Regions from separate parts of the Homo sapiens genome. Here region 1 is linked to region 2. The links come from fine-mapping of genetic effects on gene expression. Tissue or cell type: pancreas. Region 2 holds a variant in brackets; the other region holds the start of a gene. All regions are shown on one strand. Distances are from middle to middle.

Region 1 (5,392 bases), 110 kb after region 2:
TTGATCTACTTTTTTTTTTTGAGACCGAGTCTCGCTCTGTCGCCAGGTTGGAGTGCAGTGGCACGATCTCGGCTCACTGCAACCTCCGCCTCCTGGGTTCAAGCGATTCTCCTGCCTCAGCCTCCCAAGTAGCTGGGACTGTAGCCGGACACCACCAAGCCCAGCTGATTTTTGTATTTTTAGTAGAAACGGGGTTTCACCATGTTGGGGAGGATGGTCTCGATCTCTTGACCTGGTGATCCGCCTGCCTCCGCCTCACAAAGTCCTGGGATTACAGGCGTAAGACACCGTGCCTGGCCGAGTATGATCTACTTTTAACATTCTTTGAGTTTAGCTGTGCCTAATACATAGTATGATCATATAAATTAGCATACAGGTGCTTATGAGTCATCAGTCTTAGCTTAGGATGTTAATCAATTGGCCTCACTTTCTCTTTGGACTAGCTGAGTTTTCTTTCATCAGGGTCATAGACTACAAATCAACGAGTCAGGTACAGAAGACAGAACCTTAGGCATTGCGGAATTTGACCAAAAATGGTAAATAAATTGGTGCAAATTCATCATCACAATTGGAAAACTGAAAGAGCAAGCAGTGGGGCCACTGCAATTATAATAACGGGTGGTGGCTCACGCCTGTAGTCCCACCACTTTGGGAGGTCAAGGGGGTCAGATTGCTTGAACCCAGGCGTTGGAGACCAGCCTGGACAACATGGTGAAACCCTGACTCTACAAAAAAAAAAATCCCCTTCCCCCACCTCCCCAAAAAACTAGCCGGGCATGGTGGTGGGCTCCTGTAGTCCCAGCTACTCTGGAAGCTGCAGTGAGAGGATCACTTGAGCCCGGGAGGTTGAGACCAGCCTGGGCAACATGGCGAAAGCCCGTCTCTACAAAAAAAATTAAAAAAAAAAATAGCCGGCATGGTGATGCGCATCGGTAATTCCAGCTACTCAGGAGGCTGAGATGGGAGGATTGCTTGAACCCGGGAGTTGGAGCAGCGAGCCGAGATCGCGCCATGGCAATCCAGCTCCGGTGCCTTCCAGTCTGGGCAACAGAGAGAGACTCCATCGAAAAGAAAAAGGGGGGAGGGGAGGGGAGGGGAGGGGAGGGGTGGGGAGGGGAGGGGAAAGATTTTACAATTTCCTGTAAGCAATGAATGGCTCTAATGTGATATTGATGAAATACCATCTTTAAGAAAGTGTACAGATTGTAAGTGACACGTGGCTGCTTACGTTACTCCTGAGATGCAAGTAGATCATGACATAATGATAACCAGTCATAATTTGCAGTAATCCCTTACAAAAAGTCCAAATTTGTTTGAAAATACAGAAACTTTTACTAGTCGAAGTTAAACATTAAACATTTTCTAGTCATTGCCTTAACAGGATTTATTAGAGTTACTATAATTTATTGAAAGAATGGCTAGATTTATAAAATGTTTTCTGGTTATGAGCCAATTATGGCAATTATTTTAATTATATATTTATAATAAAAATGCATGACTGTAAGATAAAATTTTAAACCAAATCATAATTTATATTTTAAAATAGCTTTAAAATACTTGCACATAACACATGTCGTGGTTAGTAACTTTCTCCAGCTACATTTAAAAGTATTTCTAAGATTAATTACAACATTTTTTTCTAAAGGTTTATTTTTTCCCCACAGCATAACTCTATAAATTAACGTGAGCCCATTATATCAAAGGTGTTTATGTGTGTTACATATGCATTTAATTTTAATATCCTTATTTAAGGCACGAATATCCCCAAGCAAGCACAGTATGCAATAAGAAGTCCTGTGGAGTCCTGTAAGTACTTTGATGAGGAATGCAGGATTTATGTAAGACCTGAGCGAGCTTGAAGAAAGACTCTACAATTGATAAAACTAAGTCAGACCGAACTGGATCATTTTCAAGTAAAATAGGTAGCAAGGCAAAAAGACCGCCTCAAAGTCGCTGCCCTTGGGGCTCTGCCACTTGCTTTACAGGCTAGGAACGGACAATGCCGGGAACCCGAGAGCGGCCGGCGCGGACGCCGAGGCAACTTTACTTGGGGCACCCACTACTCGCAATCAACTCCCGGCCTCCTCTGCTCTCGCGCCTCTAGGGGCTCAAGCACTGCTCCGGGAGCGCTGAATTTTGAGGAAGAGGGCAGAACTTCAGTAAGGAGACCTGTCTGGGCAACGGTTTCAGGACACGCGGTGGGGAAAGCGACTAGCCTCCGGCGGGGCAGGGCGGGCTGTCCTTACCTGCAGAACCACCGGCCACGATCTGCCGAGAAGCCTCGCGCACTAAGCTGACTTCAGGCTTGGCGGACATCTTCGCCAGGCGGGAGGACAAGGGAGTGGGCTGAGATGCGTCAACGAGCTCGCAGCCTGCACAGCCTACTGATCCAGAGAGCCCCGGCTGGGCTGGTCCTCAAGCGCGTTGGCTCCCTGTGGAGCAGCAATCCGGCGACTGCTGGAAAGCGAGGGTTCGAGGCGCAGATTCGTCGCGCGATCTCCGGCGCGTCGGAACCTGTTCGCAGCGCTCTCGCAGAGGCGCCCTCGGCTCCGAAAATGTCTCTGGAAAGAAGACCCGCGGATGGGTTTGGGTTGGCTCACCGCAGCGGCTCAGGCTTTGTCTCCTAGATTGGCGCCCACGCCCTTCTCTATCAGGAGCCTCCGGTAGTTTGTCAAACTAGACGGTTGCCTCTGATAACTCAAGTGAAGTGACCCAGGCCTGGAGCGCCAAGTACAAAGCGGGGACGACACTTGCACCTCCTGGCAAGCCAGAGCACAGTGAGGTTCAAAAGAAGGGACAAGTGAATAAATTCCTCAGTTAGTTGTCCTATAATTGTGGTCTGTAGCAACTAAGTCAAAGCAAATCTAATTTACACTTACCTTACAATAGAGCTAAGGTAGTACTTTACCAAAAATGGTTTTGATTTAAGGTAAAATCATACCTCATCAACTTGAGTTTTATTTACCTAAGGACCAAAAGAAGAAAAAGCCTGGTTACAAATAGTTTCTTCTATACCCAGGTCAGTGGTTCTTAAAAGTGGTTTTAGTACCCACAGCATCAGCATAATTTGTGAATGTGTTAGGAAGTCAAATTCGTGGGTCCCACCCCGACCTAAACGGAATCAGAATCTCTGGGGATAGGGCCCAGAAACGAGTTCTCTGTTGATTGTCATGAACTTTAAAGGTTGTGAACCACTGACTTAAACAATTGAGGAACATTAAGGAACTTAACAGTATATTCTCTCAATAAAATGTTTGATTATTCTTACTAGCCCCTTAGGATAGTTACCAAAACAAAACTACTAATTTATACTCTTTTAAAACTACAAGTTGCCTGTGTTATGTAGGAGAGATATAAGATTGTGAAATTTTCCAAAAATACCTGCCACACCCCTAACAGACAGGAGATGATAAGAGTAAAAGAGAGAATTGGGAGGCTTTAGAAGCCCTATTGTAATATTTCTTAAAACACATTATTTATTGCTAAATATATTTAGTGTGAGCCATGTAAAAATTGCCATTTTTGGAGGTCAAAAACCGTTGAATATCAGCAATTTAGTATGGTTCAATTTATGTGGTTTCTAATCAAATGTACAAAGTACAATAATTTGGTTTCATACTTGATTTTTTATTTCTTAGGCTGAGTCATTAAAAGTTGATCAGTGATATATGGCAAAATTATTTAAAGTGCTTGAGGAATTGGGGAGACTTGCTGCTTATGTGATCAGATATACAAAAATAAAGTTTTTCATTTCATTAAATATTTGATTAAAACTGCTAAGTTTGAAAATGTTTACCAAGAAATAGTTTTCAGAAATTTTGCTAACTTGATAAAGGCTTTTGAGCAATATCTTTCAGACTTTTTACTAATTAAATAGGGAATCTTGAGTGCAATATAGAATCACTTATTCAACAAATATTGAGAACCTGTTATATACTAGGTATAGAAACAGAATTTCAGAGCTCATAGAAAATGTTTTCCTCATTTTTCAAAGCAGAAGCTGAGTTTTCCAAGATCACACTAGGCGTAATAGTATAGCTGGGATTCCATCACAGGACTCCTTCTTTTGATAGCATTGGATTGTAGATTTAAATATTAACCACAGGCTAAAAAAACTACATTCTGTGACACAAATACCCCCACAAATTAATTCCATTTTTTTTTAGTTTTTAAAAATTTGGTCACAACTATTAAACCCTAGTGCACACACTGAAACAGATTCTACACTGAGAGCTCACTAAGTGTTAGCACTTGCCTAGGTACTGACAATATCACTACAAATCCCTTCCCTGTGGCACTTACAATCTAATGGAGGAGATCCTACCACCTTGTAAGTAAATTTTTGCCTTCCCTACGTTATCCAGGAAATGCAATAATACTTTTAGGTCAAGATTTAAAGACAATCTTTTGACATAATTATTTCCATGAGTGTCTTCCCCTCTGAAGATCTTATCCATGGTAGGTGGGAGCAAGTTTGTGTCTAAGACCCAGCCTCTAAAAAGCTCTGTGGATTCAGTTGGAAAACTCCCAGTTATCCTTGTTAAAAAGTTACTTCCTCTTTTTAACCTCTCCAGACTAGAAGAGATATCTTTGAGTGAAAAAAGCAAGACTTGATATCACATATAATCCAGTCCTATACCTCTAGAATACTAGAGGATATGGGGCCTAGGCATGAGAACATTCTAGAGCTTGGGAGTTAACAAGAGTCAATACAGAGCCAATAAGTACTCACTGTGCTAAACGCTCTGATAATGGAATGTAATTCTTATCTGCAGCTAAATTTGCTCATGGCCAATATTGGAATGCTGGAAGATTTAGTACTGGGAAGCAATGGTAATATTTACTTGACCTATTTCAGATTCCCTAGCCTCTATTACATTGTTGTTCTATTATTATTTGGAATAGTGATGTGATATCCTAATGGGGCAAAACTGCTAAAGTATGAAGATTATATTCTTTAAATTATTGATTTATTTAGCTGATCTTGGTTGATAATTACATGATTATTGACTTCCCTATCGTTTGTCAAGTGGCTAAAAAAACCCTTCAGGAACATAACTGGGAATCTAGGAGTTAAGAAAGCCTCTAAGCCATCAACATGCAGAAATCCATTTAGAACTAATTTTAGAACCAGTTTTTAAAAGGGTGGATATCTGATTTCTTGTTTCATATCAGATTAGAAATAACATATTAAAAGATAATTGGATTGTTTGGGGAGAATAGGGGAGGTTCTAGGAAAGTAAAGAGCAATCTGCAACCTTCAGGCCATATTCAACCTATCTAGTCAATTGTAGTAACAACATTCATTGACTTTACCTTCTCCCAGAAACTGGGCTAATTAAGCATTTTGTAATCCATTATCTCATTCCTGTTTTACAAAGGAGGAAACTCT
Region 2 (5,392 bases):
GACTCACAGTTATTCTATCATTTTTGCTACCACCATCACCAACACCCCATTCTATGAATTAACTCATTTGTGTCTCTCAATTGGTTTACTGTACTGCTCATTCTGTCCCTTATCCTATTTCACTTCCAGGTTGACAAAAACTCTTGTCCAAAAATAATTATTAGACACCTATGAGACAGACACTGTAGTAAGCACTAGGGACATAAAGACAAGGCATGCATATTCTCAAAAGAGTATAGAACATTGGGAAGGCAGATCTGCTTTCATCCCTTCCTTTGACACACATCTGTTAAGGGCCTAATATATGCCAGCTACTCTACCAAACCCCCAGGATACAAAAGTAAATAAGACACATTACCTGCTCTTAAGGAACTTATGGTCTATTTGGAAAAGACTGACAGGAAAACAAAACAAACAAACCATACAATGAAGTGAAATACAGTATATATGTATATGCTGGGACCAACTGGAGTAGGAATAATCTATGGTACTTTGGGGAAAGGATTTGTTCAGAGAAGCCTTTATGGATGAGGTGACACTTGAGATTTGAAAGCTGAGGAGTGTGTGAGGGGTACAGAAGAACCCTGAATGCAGAGATTATACTGTGACAAAACATGGTAGCCTAGGTTATTCAGATCAGACTTCCCACTGAAAACAACAATATTGGATAAGGTACAAAAGCATCTTCTTAAAATAATAAAAAGCTGACAAGAAAGTATTTTAACCAGGCTAAAATCTAAGTGAAGCAGGAGCTCAGGGAGGTGAACCGAGCTCTGGAGATTATTTTGGCTCAAGACATCTGTCAATTGTAGACCTCTCAGGCTGAGAAGAAACCAACATCAAAGCTCAGTTCATGCAGGTGAGGAGACAAATTGAAGTGCTTCTCTATATTAAACTGTTTCCCCAAAGGGTTACACCCTCAGGGAAAGGGCAAATTAGAAGTCCTACTCCATTCCATTCCCAACACCAGGGGACTTAAGGAAATTTGTCTATTGCTGAGCAGATTAAGGAGGAATGTCCCTGAGAAGTTGTAACTAAAAGGTGGTCCTTGAGCCAATGTGCAGACTGAATTTACATCACTTAAAGAAGGGTACATTCAAACACTTCAGATATTGAATCATTAGACATATATGGTAAAACAATTATGCATACTATATTTAAAGATAGAAATAAAAAGTGGGATAAAATTTAAGAGGAAAAAAATTAACAAAATGTGCCTTAGCAGATTTGAAAGGAATTGAACACTCTTTTGAATTGAGAAATAAAACTAATTTGAAACGAATGGTTTTTACAATGATTGTAGTAAAGATTAAATTTAATCAGGCAAGGATCATCAGTGAATGCCAAATCTGAGGGAAAATTTGTATAAGGAGCGGGATATTCGTATAATCTTAAAGTGCGAACCCACAAGCTGCTTATTAGTTTCAAGAGAGGAGAGGAAAAGAAATTAGATGGTGGAGAAATCAGGTAACTTAACCGATTCATCAGAATTGGTATCCACACTTCCAGATATGACACTCGGAGAAAAATACAGTATCAAAAAGGCTGTCTTCTTGCCAAAAATGTGTAACTTGAATCTAATCATAAGGGAACATCACACAAACCCCCTATTAGGAATATTCTATTTCTAAAAGGTAAGAGTGGGGATTTTGGTCTTTCAAAAGGTAAATGCCATGAAAGACTAAATAAGGCTAAGAAAATGCTCCAGATTTAAAAAGGCTTCAAAGACATGACAACTAAATGCAATACCTGACTCTACACTGCACATGGCACTGGAGAGGAATAAAATGATATCGAGGACATCACTGAGTCAACTGAAAAAATGGATTATGTGAACAGATGAAATAAAAAGCATTGTACTAATACTTTTTAAGTGGTAAATTAAAATTTACCATGCAAAAAGTATTTACATTCATACTTGTACTGTAGCTATATGAAAATATCCTTACTCTTCAGAAATAAACACTGCAGTACTCAGGGGTTAAGGACCATGATGTATGTAATTTACAACAAATGGTTCATAAAAAAGTACACATATAAATATTTCATTTAAAAAGTATATGTGTGTATATACATGTATATATAAGTATGTATATTTACATTTAAAATTATATACACATGGAGAGAGAGAGAAGGACAGAGAACAAACAATAAAGATAAAGGCATAAAATATTGATAATAGATGTACCTGAATAATAAGTTTAGAAGTATTCTTTGTACTGTTTTACTTTTTCAACTTATCTAGAAGTTTTAAATGTTTAAAATTATTTTCAGATAAAAAGAAAACAAAAGACCTGAATGAATGGATTCAACAACAATCTAGACATAGATGAGGGAAAATACTAGCACTCTAAAAAATGGGGCAGAAGAAATTATCCAGAATACAGTACAGTGGGGAAAAAAATGTAAATACGAAAGAGAGATTAGGCTTAATGGGCTAAGGAGTAACATATATTTAACTAGAGTTCCAGAAGAAGAGAAGAAAAATAATGGGGAAGCAGGAGGGGCAAAATTTGAAGAACTAACCATTTTTTAGAACTACTAAAATATAACAATCGCAAATTTATGAATCCCAGTGAATTTTGAATAGGCAAATAAAATGAAATGAACCTGTAGTAACATCAGAGTAAAACTGCATTACTCCAAAAAATGAAGTAAAAGCAGCCAGAAGTAAAGGACAGATTATTCCTAAAGAGCATCAGTTTGACAGCTGACTTCACAAAAACAACAGCAAAAGCCAAAAGATGCTGTGAAATTATATACATAGGTATTAAA[T/C]GTACTGAGAGACAATAACTGCCAACCTTGAATTCTGTACCCAGAAAATGCATCCTTATTATAAGCATGTTTTCAGACAAATAAAGAGATTTTTTTTCTATCATCGGACCCTGACAAAATGGATTCCAAAAGGATATACTACAAGCGGAAGGAAAGTGATCCCAGATGGAAAATCTGAGATGCAAGAAGTAATGACAAGCAAAAAAAGCAGTAAATATATGAGAGGACTCCATGAACAAAAGTATGGAGGCAGAAAATAGTCTAGTGTGTTCAGGGAATTGCCAGCAGCTTGGCTGTAGATTGGTGAAGCAGAGAGTTAGTCTTTCAACTCTATCAAATACAAATCCTATCAGTAAAAACTAAAATTAAGCATGTGCTCAGAATACATGTAGATTTACTTATTTATGAAAATATTATGTATATTATAAAATGTGCACAAAAATAATTTAAAAGGATAGGATTAAGAACAAAATATAAATAGAACTTCTGATATCTTCTTCCCGTATTCTAAGTGATTCTATTACAAAATTAGGAGTCAGCAAACTATGGCCTGCAGGCCAAATCTAGCCCACCATCTGTTTTGTCCTACAACAGCAAAGCTGGATAGTGGTGGCACAGATGTATAGCCCATGAAGTCTAAAATATTTACTATCTGGTTCTTTACAGGAAACGTTTGCCAACCCCCGGACTTGAACACAGGCCGCGACAGCAGAGTCAGGGTTCATAGTCACCACATTGTGGACTTGTCCATCATACCGGGAATAAGGAGCTCCGAAGGATTTTAAGCAGGAGAAAGGTCATTCTGGCAGCCACATGGTAAATGGAACAGAAGAAAGATGCCTGATGAAAGGGAAGCCAACTAGGAGATATTTTGTGACAGTGATTAAAGTGCTTTTCCTCTCTGACACCAGGTTCTCTGTCTATAAAATGGGTGTGATAATTCACACAAAGTTCTCTGTGGGTCAGAGGAAAGAGTGTCTTAACTGTGAAAGCACTATAACAATTCAAGGTATGATGATTTTTTTTGCAGTAGATTTTCATTAAATGAATGTTTTGGAAAGAGTTATATGTGTTTTGCTGTAATTTTGGTTGTATTCTTTGACATTAACACATTTTGTATAATTGCATCACATAGCTATACTGAACCCATTTAGTATCAAAATTTAATGCAATGTAATTTTGTAAATTGATTTAAATCTATTTTAGTCACTTGTCTGGAAAAACATTGCTAGATGCTAATAATTCAGTGCAAATTCTTTGCTTACTTGCTTACAAAGGGTAGTACTCAATTGAAGAATGTATTTATACAAATTGACTTATTAACACCTGATATGTACATCCCATGTAACAGGCATAAAGATCATAAAGAAATAATATGGCAGAAAAAGATCTATGAGCACAATCATATTTTCTTTCAATTCTTGAGACTCCCCAAACATTATAAGCTAAAAAAAGCAATTTTTCTCTTTAAAAAGACAACTTGGCCAGGCGCGGTGGCTCACGCCTGTAATCCCAGCACTTTGGGAGGTCGAGGCGGGCAGATAACGAGGTCAGGAGATCGAGACCATCCTGGCTAACACGGTGAAACCCCGTCTCTACTAAAAATACAAAAAAAAATTAGCCGGGCATGGTGGCAGGAGCCTGTAGTTCCAGCTACTCTGGAGGCTGACGCAGGAGAATAGCGTGAACCTGGGAGGTGGAGCTTGCAGTGAGCCGAGATCATGCCACTGCACTCCAGCCTGAGCAACAGAGTGAGACTCCATCTCAAAGAAAAAAAAAAAACTTAAGGTACTTCTCTTATTACTGTTTATGACACTGAAACATACGACCATATTAGTTGATTCTTTTTCAGATTCAGGGGTGTGGTTTTCAAGAGCACCCATCTGCACCCACCATCTCATAAGATAAATTACTGAGAGTATAACATGGTTGTGATAAATTATAGAGTATCTGTGGCAACAGTAGATTATGCCCTCATGATATTTATGTCTCTATCCTTGATGTGTGTACAAATATGTGTTTAGGAACATATGCGTAGACATCCTTTAAAAACATGCCAGCATATTGTGAAAGAAAAAATATATGATTATCATCAGAGAAGATAAAAGGTGAGAAACAGTACCACATGCATCCTAATAGAACTGCAGGCTGTTTTAATTTTAATCAGTTTCAGCCTTCTTCGTTGAAAACAGAAGTAAATCATGCAAGGAACTAATTCATACTGGGAGAGACAGCAAAGAATGCCAATAAAATTTATTTGTAAAAAAAATTACTACAAAAATATTTCTACCACATTTCCAGTTTTATTCTAAATAAAAGAATAGAGGCCCTTTTCCAGGAACATTTTAAAAGGAAATAGCTTAAAGGAAACTTTTATTTCTGCTTTTTATACAAATGGCTGGGTCTCATTTATTATGCATTAATTTGCAGACAAAACCCTGGTTCTCTGCTCAAGAAAAGGCTTGACACAAGCAACATGGTGGTCTATGAAAAAGAAGGCTATATGATCCCTAATTCTGCCTGTGTTCAACACACGCACATTACTGTTCACCCCACTGATAACAAAGATCAGATGTTCCTAGTGCACAAGTTACACTCTTTCACAGAAGCTCTCCAT

What was found.
Region 1: SLC25A21 starts here. The variant in region 2 is fine-mapped to the expression of SLC25A21 in pancreas (GTEx, PIP 0.94).

The regions. Positions count from the first base shown.
Region 1 is chr14:37,170,035-37,175,426 of GRCh38, forward strand. It overlaps SLC25A21 (solute carrier family 25 member 21), which reads right to left and starts at 2,572. Exons shown (of 10, transcript NM_030631.4): 1 at 2,247-2,572. The coding sequence starts at 2,316. It overlaps SLC25A21-AS1 (SLC25A21 antisense RNA 1), which reads left to right and starts at 1,992. Exons shown (of 1, transcript NR_033240.1): 1 at 1,992-3,760. RefSeq lists enhancers at 1,687-2,266, 2,267-2,845.
Region 2 is chr14:37,064,636-37,070,027 of GRCh38, forward strand. All of the region lies in intron 1 of SLC25A21 (solute carrier family 25 member 21), which reads right to left. Among named protein-coding and RNA genes, the nearest start is that of SLC25A21-AS1, 100 kb to the right of the region's middle. The variant T/C (reference allele first, on the strand shown) is at 2,776.